Regions from separate parts of the Homo sapiens genome. Here region 2 is linked to region 1. The links come from fine-mapping of genetic effects on gene expression. A gene starts in region 1. The other region holds a variant in brackets. All regions are shown on one strand. Distances are between the middles of the regions. Region 1 holds the start of NCOA6 (nuclear receptor coactivator 6). Region 2 overlaps NCOA6 (nuclear receptor coactivator 6).

The links. PIP is the estimated chance that this variant, and not a neighbour inherited with it, causes the effect.
Region 2: its variant is the best candidate, but not a certain one, in a credible set for the expression of NCOA6 in whole blood (INTERVAL, PIP 0.57).

Annotation. Positions count from the first base shown.
Region 1 is chr20:34,822,728-34,828,110 of GRCh38, reverse strand. It overlaps NCOA6 (nuclear receptor coactivator 6), which reads left to right and starts at 2,460. Exons shown (of 15, transcript NM_014071.5): 1 at 2,460-2,639. RefSeq lists silencers at 2,354-2,543, 2,554-2,993.
Region 2 is chr20:34,745,568-34,750,950 of GRCh38, reverse strand. It overlaps NCOA6 (nuclear receptor coactivator 6), which reads left to right. Exons shown (of 15, transcript NM_014071.5): 9 at 432-1,548; 10 at 4,023-4,144. Among named protein-coding and RNA genes, the nearest start is that of TP53INP2, 44 kb to the right of the region's middle. The variant G/C (reference allele first, on the strand shown) is at 2,669.

The DNA.
Region 1 (5,383 bases):
CCCGGTCTTGAACTCCTGGGCTCAAACAATCCACCTGCCTCAGCCTCCCAAAGTGTTGGGATTACAGGTGTGAGCCACTGCACCTGGCCATCAACAGATACTTTTAAGTAGAGTAGTGACATGATCATATTTCTGATCATTAGAAACATTACTCTGACAGCAGGGTGGAGAATAGATTAGAGGGCGGTCAGGGTAATGTGAAAAGATGGTGGGTATCTACTACACCAGTCCAAGCACACTGTGTGTACTCAATAAATATTGATGGAATGAAAGGGTTCCTGACTCCCTTTCTTCTATGGGATCAGTAGGACTGATTTGTTTAATTAGTTTACAATCCACCTGCTCATCCTCTATCTCCTGGGATGCTCAGAACAGACCCCAACTCCCATTTTACAGATGAAGATGCTCAAGTTCAGAGAGGCAAGGACAGCTATCAAGAGCGAAAGCCAAAGAGAGCTGCCATACAATCCAGCAATCCCATTCTTAGGTATACACCGGAAAGAAAGGAAATCAGTGTATGGAAGAGATCTGCACTCTCATGTTTACTGCATCCCTGTTCACAACAGCCAAGATTTGGAAGCAACCTAAGTGTCCATCAACAGATGAATGGATAAATAAAATGTACATATACACAATGGAATACTATTCCGCCATTAAAAAAGAGTGAGATCGTGTCATTTGCAACAATATGGATGGAACTGGAGGTCATTATGTTATGTGAAAGAAGCCGGGCACAGAAAGACAAACTTCACATGTTCTCACTTATTTGTGGGAGCAAAAAATTAACTATTTTTTATTTTTTTTTGAGACGGAGTCTCACTCAGCCACCTAGGCTGGAGTGCAGTGGCGCGAGCTAGGCTCACCGCAACCACCATCTCCCAGGTTCAAGAGATTCTCCCGTCTCAGCCTCCTGAGTAGCTGGGATTACAGGCACCCGCCATCATGCCCACCTAGCTTTTGTATTTTAGTAGAGACAGGGTTTCACCATGTTGGCCAGGCTGGTCTTGAACTCCTGACCTCAGGTGATCCGCCCATCTTGGCCTCCCAAAGTGCTAGGATTACAGGCGTGAGCCACCATGCCGGGCCAGGAGCGAAAAATTAAAACAATTGAACTCATGGAGATAGAGAATAGAAGGAGGGTTACCAGAGGCTGGTAAGATTAATGGGGAGGTAGGTGGGAAGTGGGAATGATTAACGGGTACAAAAGAATAGTTAGAAAGAATAAGACCTAGTATTTGCTAGCACAAGAAGGTGACTACAGTAAAAAACAATTGGCCGGGCGCGGTGGCTCACGCCTATAATCCCAGCACTTTGAGGGGCAGAGGCGGGCGGATCATGAGGTCAGGAGTTCCTGACCAGCCCGGCCAATATGGTGAAACCCCATCTCTACTTAAAAAATATACAAAAATTAGCTGGGCGTGGTGGCATGCGCCTGTAGTACCAGCTACTCAGGAGGCTGAGGCAGGCGAATCCCTTGAACCAGGGAGGCGGAAGTTGCAGTGAGCTGAGATCGCGCCACTGCACTCCAGCCTGGGCGACGGAGTGAGACTCCGTCTCAAAAAAACAAAAATAAAACAAAAAACAAAAAAAAAACCACACACACACAAAATTTACTTGTACATTTTAAAATAACTAGAGTATAATTGGGTTATTTGTAACACAAAGGATAAATGCTTGAGTTGCTAGATACCCCATTTACCATGATGTGATTACACATCGCATGCCTGTATCAAAATCTCATGTACCCCATAAATATATTCACCTACTACGTACTTACGAAAATTTAAAAAATACATCAGTGTAGTGTGGGAAAAAACAGAAAATTTTTAAAAAAGAGTGAAAGCCAGATATGAATCCAGGCCTGTATGACAGACATGAAGTCCAGTGCTGAGGAGGCCTTTCTACGTTTGGGAAGAGGGGAGGGGCCACACTCGTTCGATCAATAATTCTATTTACTGAGCATTTTAGCTTGCTAGGGAGGTAATGATGGGAAAAAGAAGAGAGGGATTTAGAGGCAAATAATAATGAAAGCTTTTATCTATATCCCATTAAGCTTATTATTAGACAGTATGTGTCAGGCACGGTGACAAGTGCTTTCCAAGCCCACCTCCATTTGCTCTTCACAAGCACTATGATTTTCCCCATATTTCAGATGGGTAAACTGAGGCTTGGAGTTGCCATGTCCAAGGATACTCAGAGCGCTCGCAAAAGACTGTGCAATGTGTGCTTCCGAAGTGGGACTCACTGGCGAGAGAATAGCCCTGGAAAGCCGACAGAGACCCACGAGATCCCAGCACTAAGCACTCAGCACCGAAGGGAGCTGGCGCGCGCTCCACCTCGCGCTCCCGGGGACGTCTGGTCACGTGGGCAATGCCCCGCCCCTCGAGTCCGCCCCGCCCCCTCTCGCGCTCCCTCCCTCTCTCCCTCCCTCCCCCTCCCTCCCCGGCCCGGTCCGGCCCATCCCCCTCCCCGCCGGCTCCGTGAGGCCCTGCCGGGTCGGGCTGCGGGCGGCCGGGCGCGGGCGGCGGGACAGACGGGCGCACGCGAGGACTGACGGACGGACGCACCGAGGGCGGCGGGCACGCACGGCCCGGGCCGGCGCTCCAAGGCCCGCCCGGGAGGGCCGGGGCCGCGCTCAGGTGAGGGGACGGCGGCGCGGGCCCGTAAGGGGTGGGCCCGCCGGGCGTCCGCGGTCCTTGTCGGGCTGGCTTCGCGGGGAGGAGGCGCCGCCCGGGCCCGCGCGGAAAAATGGCGCCGGGCGACCGAGTGGCACGGTCTGAGAGCGGGCCCGGCCCGGAGCCGCCCCGCCCGCCGCGCTTGTGTCCCCGTCGCCATGTTGGGGAGCGGGCCCCAGGCCTGCGGGCGGGGGCGCTGGAGGGAGCGGCGGCCGGGCTGGGTGGGGAGGGTGCTGGGCGCGGGGGCCGGTGCACTGAGGGAGTGCAGGGCTGGCCGGGGTCTGCACGGGGTGGCGCTCCAGGCCTGGGGAACAGGCGGGAGCCGGTCGTGGGGTCGTGGTCAGGGTCGCGGAGAAGGAACACTGGGTCCGAAGGGAACCGGGATTGGGGTCTATGGGCTGAGAGGATGGCAGGACGTGGAACTGGGTTAGGCCTTAGGCGGTGTTAGAGCCCTAATGCAGGTAGGACCTGGGGATTGGGGTGGAGGCATGGGGGCCAAGCTCAGGCTGTCAGGGCTGGAGCAGTTCTTTGCTGGGAGGGAAGGAGGTGATTGATGAGGAATGAGGGCCCTTTGGGTACAGACGCTGGTTCAGATTGGGGCAGTCCTTGGGGTACTGGGGCTGAATTGCAAAGCTGTATAACTCCCAAGGCTCTGAAGACTTATGTCCCAAGCATCCTCCACCCCCTCTTGGGGGAAGCAACAGGAAAAAGGAGGTGTTTGATGAGAGAAAAGGGGGACAAAGGGAGACTGAGGTTTGGGTGCAGGAGCTGGCCAGCAAAAGAGGCACAGAGAGTGGAACTGGTTGGCAAGGAAGGAGAGAACCTTTATCAACTTAGGGAGTTGTGTGTGTCTTTAAAAGGAGGGACCTGGCTGTTTGGGGGCGGTGACCCAAGGTGTCTTCCCTGGAAGGGGACAGCCCACAGCTTAAGAGCAGAGTCACCTGGAGAGGTCATCAGAAAGGCGTTATTGAAGCCAGTAAAATGGTGAAGAAGAGTGAATGTATAAAAACTACAAAGGCCTGAGAGATCAAGTAAAGATTTCAAATCAGGTAGTGATTTTAGCTGAAACATAGAAAGGTAAAGTTGACTTTTCAAGATCTTACAAGTTAGTGGCAGAGGGGTACTAGAAATTGTCGGCTGCTTCCTCACTAAACACATTGCCTTAAAGGAATTTGCTAGCTGGGAGAAAGGTGTTAAGAAATGAAGCATAACATTCTTGTGATGAAACTAAAAGCAAACAAACAAAAACAACAAGAAATGAAGCATAACAGTATATACCAGATAACTATTAAATTTGTTTTCTTCCTGTAATGAGTGTGGCAATACAAAGGCTGAAGGGAATACAAAAAAGTATAGGCAGCCAGTTATTTGGTATTTCCTGGTTCATCTCTAATTGTGCAAAGAAGTTATCTTTGAGACCTTCTAACTTTCTAGAGTTTTAAGAGGTGCTCCGGCCAGCCACAGTGGCTCACGCCTGTAATCCCAACACTTTGGGAGGCCAAGGTGGGAGGATTTCTTGAGCCCAGGAGCTGGCAGACCCCATCTCTACAAAAGAAATAAAAAAAATTAGCCACCTGATGTGGCTTGTACTTGTAGTCCCAGCTACTCAGGAGGCTGAGGTGGGAGGATCGCTTGAGCCTGGGAGGTCAAGGCTGCAATGAGCCATGCTATGGTCATTCCATGACATTCCTGCCTGGGCGACAGAGCAAGACACTGTCTAAAGAAAAAAAAAAAAGAGAGATGCTCCTTCTCTTCTAGGTGTTTACCACAAAGGAACACAAAATCCTAAAAAAGAAAAGTGAAAAATTGTAGACACCCAGAGTCTCTATTTTATTAATTGAAGTTGGATCATGTTAGAGAAGAATTCAAAGTTCGCATGGGCTATGGGAGAGTTCTGAAGGAAATATGCAAATTAGTCATGGAAAATAGGTCCAGGGCCCCATATAATCAAAGAGAATTAGCGAACAAAAATATTATGCGGGCATATATAAAATAAAACTGTCAATACCATATGTATATACAGCAACACAATTCATTTGTTCTGGGTTTTTCTTTTCTTTTCTTTTCTTTTTTTTCTGTTTGTAGAGTTGGGGTTTCAACATGTTGCCCAGGCTGGTCTTGAAATCCTGAGCTCAAGTGATCTGCCCACCTGAGCCTCCCAAAGTGCTGGGATTACAGGCGTGAGCCACCGCGCCCAGCCTATTCTGGGTTTTTCTAATGCAGGAAGACCTGACCTTATCTGTGCCATGGACCCCTTTCAGAATAATATTTTTTAATTGTATAAAATAAAGTACATTGAATTATAAGGAACACCAATTATATTAAAATACAGTTTCCAAAATATACAAATCTAATATGCATATACTTGTTTATCAGCACGTTAAGAAATCAGATTTAGTGATGGATCCGATAATTATAATTTCAAAGACATGATGCGCATAAAGGCTACTTCAAGATTATATGCAACAATTGTAGTATGATATAAAGATATTTGAGATTTCTGTTGTTACAGAGTCACAGAACTGCTAATACTAGAATGGTATGTTACCTACACTCATATTTGAATAGAATGGTAATTTTCAGTTAAAAGTTAGTAAAAGAGATTTTTTTCTCCCTGTCCAAGTTCACAAGCCCCACTGAAGTCCTATCTATAGACTCCTGTCTATGAACCCCAGGTTAAGAAACCCTACTCCTACTGCCAGGCATGT
Region 2 (5,383 bases), 77 kb after region 1:
CCTCCACCTCCCAGGCTCAAGCAATCCGCCTGCCTCAGCCTCCCAAAGTGCTGGGATTACAGGCATGAACCACCCGAGCCTGGCCACTACAAGTCATTTTAAAACAGTGAGATGCTGCCTTTCTCATTATTTAATCTGAAAGAAAGTAAACTTTCTTGATCTTTGAAACGTTAAATCTTTAAGATACCATATGGGAATGTAGAAACTGTTTCTCCTTCTCTATTATATGGTCATTGGGAATGTAAGCAGTTATCCCACAGCCACATCTTTGTAGTTTAGAAAACTCACAGGAAGTATGTCAACAGCATATTTATGTTGGTCAGTGGATATAAGGGTGATGGATGTCTTTCTGAGTAATGTAACTTGAGTATCTTAATACCAATAAGATAAAAATATTTATTTCTGAAACTGTGACTTTTTTTTTTTTTAAGGTGGTCAAGGAGCTGGTCCTCCTCAAAACCAGATGCAGGTGTCCCACGGGCCGCCAAATATGATGCAGCCCAGCCTCATGGGAATTCATGGCAACATGAACAATCAGCAGGCTGGTACTTCTGGGGTTCCTCAAGTGAACCTCAGCAACATGCAAGGCCAGCCCCAGCAGGGCCCACCATCTCAGCTGATGGGCATGCACCAGCAAATCGTGCCCTCCCAGGGCCAGATGGTCCAGCAACAAGGAACCTTGAACCCTCAGAACCCTATGATCCTTTCAAGGGCCCAGCTTATGCCACAGGGCCAGATGATGGTGAACCCCCCGAGCCAAAATCTTGGGCCCTCGCCCCAAAGGATGACCCCACCCAAGCAGATGCTTTCCCAGCAGGGCCCACAAATGATGGCGCCACATAACCAGATGATGGGGCCTCAGGGGCAGGTTTTGCTCCAACAGAACCCAATGATAGAGCAGATTATGACCAATCAAATGCAGGGGAATAAGCAGCAGTTTAACACTCAGAACCAGTCCAATGTCATGCCGGGACCAGCCCAGATAATGAGGGGACCAACTCCAAACATGCAAGGAAATATGGTGCAGTTTACGGGACAGATGTCAGGACAGATGCTGCCCCAGCAAGGGCCTGTGAACAACAGTCCATCTCAGGTTATGGGCATTCAGGGACAGGTCCTGCGGCCACCAGGGCCCAGCCCACACATGGCCCAGCAGCATGGTGATCCTGCTACTACAGCAAATAACGATGTCAGTTTATCTCAGATGATGCCTGATGTTAGCATTCAACAAACCAACATGGTCCCCCCTCATGTGCAGGCCATGCAGGGAAACAGTGCCTCGGGAAACCACTTCTCAGGCCATGGGATGTCTTTCAATGCACCTTTCAGTGGAGCTCCCAATGGAAATCAGATGTCCTGTGGTCAAAATCCAGGCTTCCCAGTCAATAAGGATGTCACGCTAACGAGCCCATTGTTGGTCAACTTATTGCAGAGTGACATATCTGCAGGCCATTTTGGGGTAAACAATAAGCAAAATAATACCAACGCAAATAAACCGAAGAAGAAGAAACCCCCTCGGAAGAAGAAAAATAGTCAGCAAGATCTAAAGTAGGTTGTGATGGTTTTGCCTCAAATTTTATTCATTTGTTTTCTGTGTGGATAACTTTTTTGATGGAAAATTTTACAGAATATAAAACTAGAATAGTATAATGAAATCCCCCTGCTTCAATAATTATCAACTCATAGTCTGTCTTGCCTTCATCTGTACTCTCTTCCATTACCCTTTTGAGTATTTCAAAGCAAATTCGCTGGGTAAATATTTCAGTGTGTGTCTCTAAAAGATAAGGACACTTTTTAATATGCCCGCACAATATTGTTAGCACACCTAGAAAACTAATACTTCCTTAGTACTCTCATATCCAGTGTTCAAACTTCCCTGATTATCTCAAATTTTTTTCTTACAATTTGTTCAAATAAGGATCCAAACAAGATTCATATGTTGCAATTGGCTGGTATATCTCTTAATTTTACAGTGTCGGGGGGTTTTGGCAATCAGAGCCTGAAAAGTAACCAGTGCTACCATATGGCAACTCCACAAAGCACTGACTTTAGGCTTATGATGGCTATTGGGGAACCAGAGAGGCCAAATGTGTTTTGGAAATTAAAACTACTGCTGTCTCTCAAATAGAAATGGTTTTTTTGCACAGGTGCCTTTCCTTTAAAGGCTCTTTATCATCCCTAGAAGCTTAAAACCCCACGCTAAGATGATTGGACCTTTTAAATCAGTTACCCTTTCAGTAAACGTTCTCCAGGTGAGTTATTTTGCAAGATCATAGCAGGAAAGGCAATTAACAATTTATATTTCATTTCCTGAAGCTAAGTATTAATTTGTGTTTCTGGGTTTGATAAAATGTTTCCAGAAGGAATATTCACTGAGCTATATTTTGTGCCTTTAATCATAAAAAAATAATAAATGAGGAAATAATGGCTAATGAATGTAAAACAGGTTAATTGAAATAAATTGTTAGAATTATAGAAAAAGAATCAAGAAACTTTATTTCAACCAGCTTAAATATTCAAAATTAAACCAACTACCTTTATCCCAGCCTTCCCACAACATTCTTTGTACTGTATTATATCATGCTCACTTGCCTCTTCTTGAATCTTATGCTTTAAAAGCTAATCATGGTGTATTATTAATGATAACCTATATTTTCCTGAATTCAAA[G/C]TTAATTATCTAATTTTTCTGATAGCTCTTTCTCAGTTAAATTCTTTACTAGCATCAACCTATGGGAATAATTATTTAATAAATATTTTATTCTCTCGGTAGTCTGGGAGTAAAATTGCAAGGTTATTCAGTTGCCTCTAGTGTGTATTTTTTGCCATCTTCACCAGCCCTTAGGGAAATTGGTTACTTAGGTCTACAAATTGTGAAAGGGACCTTACACAGCATCAGGACTCCCAGGAAAGGGAGACAGTGGATTTACAGGAAAAGTACCTGCTTCCAGCTCTACCACTACTTCACTGTGGAATCTTGGGCCTGTTTCATACACCTTTTTGGGCCTTAGTTTTCTCATTCATAACATGATGGGGCTGGACCAGATATCTGAGATTTCTTATCTCTACAATTTTCTGAAAGTAAAGGTTACCACTGAATTCTTGCCTGTAATTTAAAGTGAGAGAGAAGTCTTACAAGGAGCAAATTGTTATAGGTCTGGATGTGCTGACGATCTGCTTCAGGTTCTAAATTTCCATTTGCTGGGAGGCTTTTAAAGTGGATTTTTGTGGCTTATGAAACTGTACAGAGTATAATGAGACAAAACACTACCTAAAAGTGGGTGAACAAAATCAGGGCAAAGGGAAACTAAAGATAGAAAAGAAAAGTACAATTAGTACTGAGATTACAAACAAAATGAGGCCCGTGACCAGTCTTGTTCTTTGAGAATGTGGGTGTTAGTAGCTACAATTTCTTCATTTTTTTCTTCCTTACTAAAAATTTTAAGCTACACCCAGGTAAAAGCAAAGGCATCTCAAAGCAAATAGAGATGTCTGCAAATTCTCATTCTGCAGCAAAATCTTTGTGGTGGTGGTCTCAATCTTTCTTTGTTCTCTGAATACCATCAGCCAACCTATACAACCTTTTGCAAGGTGTTATGAATTGAGCCCCCACTGTTATATCCACAAAAAAGAAACAATCAGACCCCCTAGTTGAATTTGATCGCTACATTGAAGATAGTGTGGTTTCACAGGAACAGTACCTTGTAACATTGATAGTCCTATGATCAGGTCTTAAAACAGCTAAGGAATGGGTGATTACATGAAAATTATTGCACCAGGAATTTGTGGAAAGCATTCTGAGTAAATACAGTGCTGTTAGATTAAATGGATTTTAACATTTAATGAAATTGCCAGATTATTTTTATGCCAATATTTAATATTTTATCTAGACTAGAGAGAGATGAATAATGGTAATGCAAACATTTTAGTTCTTCAGAAATAGGGGAAGGGTTAAGCTAGTTTTGTGTATTTTCTATACAACTTATTCTAAAATATGTCACTTTTTTTTTTTTTTTTTTTTTTAGCACCCCAGATACTCGCCCAGCTGGTCTGGAAGAGGCTGATCAGCCACCGTTGCCTGGAGAACAAGGAATTAACTTGGATAACTCAGGCCCTAAACTGCCAGAATTTTCAAACCGGCCACCAGGTGATAAAATGTTAGCTAGATTATATACTTATTACATGTGCATGTGGCATTACAAGGCTTCCATGTCTTCAAGGAAACAATAGTATTTTATTTTATCTGCTAACTAGTCTACTTCAGTGATTTAATGTGTCTGGTATTTGGAAGCTTTGCCTTGATATTAAGTAAAAATTTCAAATATAACTTTTGAAGGCACATACACACACACATTCTATTCAAATTTGTCTTTGTTATTTTAAGTCCTCATAAAATCGGACTGAAATGTGGTTGGGCATGATGGCTCATCCACCTGTAATCACAGCACTTTGGGAGGCCAAGATGAGCAGATCGCTTGAGCGCAAGTGTTCAAGACCAGCCTGGGCAACATGGTGAAACCTTGTCTCTACTAAAAATTTTTTAAAAATTAGCCAGGTGTGGTGACACGCACCTATAGTCCCAGCTACTCAGGAGGCTGAGGTGGGAGCATCACCTGAGCCCAGGAAGTCGAAGTTGCAGTGAGCCATGATCATGCCACTGCACTCCAGCCTGGGACCCTGTCTCAAAAAAAAAAAAAAAAACCATGAAATGTGAAGTGCCTCTTTATTCTTGTCAATGTCAAGATTCTAGTTGGCATCAGAACAGGATAAGATTAAATGGAGAGATGATTTCACTCTAATCCTGCTTGCCTGCCTTTCCTGCAGCGTTTCTTCCTGGGGCTTCTCAAAGCAGGGAACTACCAGGGTTTAAAACAAGATGATCTTTTTTATAGAAGTTTCATTAATGAGTCTTTAAAATATAAAGAAGATATAAAGAATAAAAGAGACACCCATGTATCTACCACATAGGTTAATAATTTATAATAAATAGGACCAATATTGGAAGCCCCCTTTGTTGTATCCTCTCTGATTATAAAATAATACTATCCTTTAAATGTTGAAAAATTATGTCAAAGATGGAAAAGCTCCTAAAATTAATTCATTCAAACCTAGATATTATAGAACCAAGGCCAGCTGCCACAATATCTCTATACCTGGTTATCTTGGCCTGAGCAATGACTTGTAACTTTATTCCCCTATGACACGGTTGAAGATACACAACCCTTCACACTTAGGCCACTCTCCCCTGTGTGTACAGAGGGTATGTTTTGTTTCTTCCTCACTAGTTATTTCAACTTCTTTTTGGCATGAAAATGAGAGCGACATTATTTTAGGAGTAACCTTTAATCTACCCCTAATTTATGTATTTTAAAATTGAATCCAAACA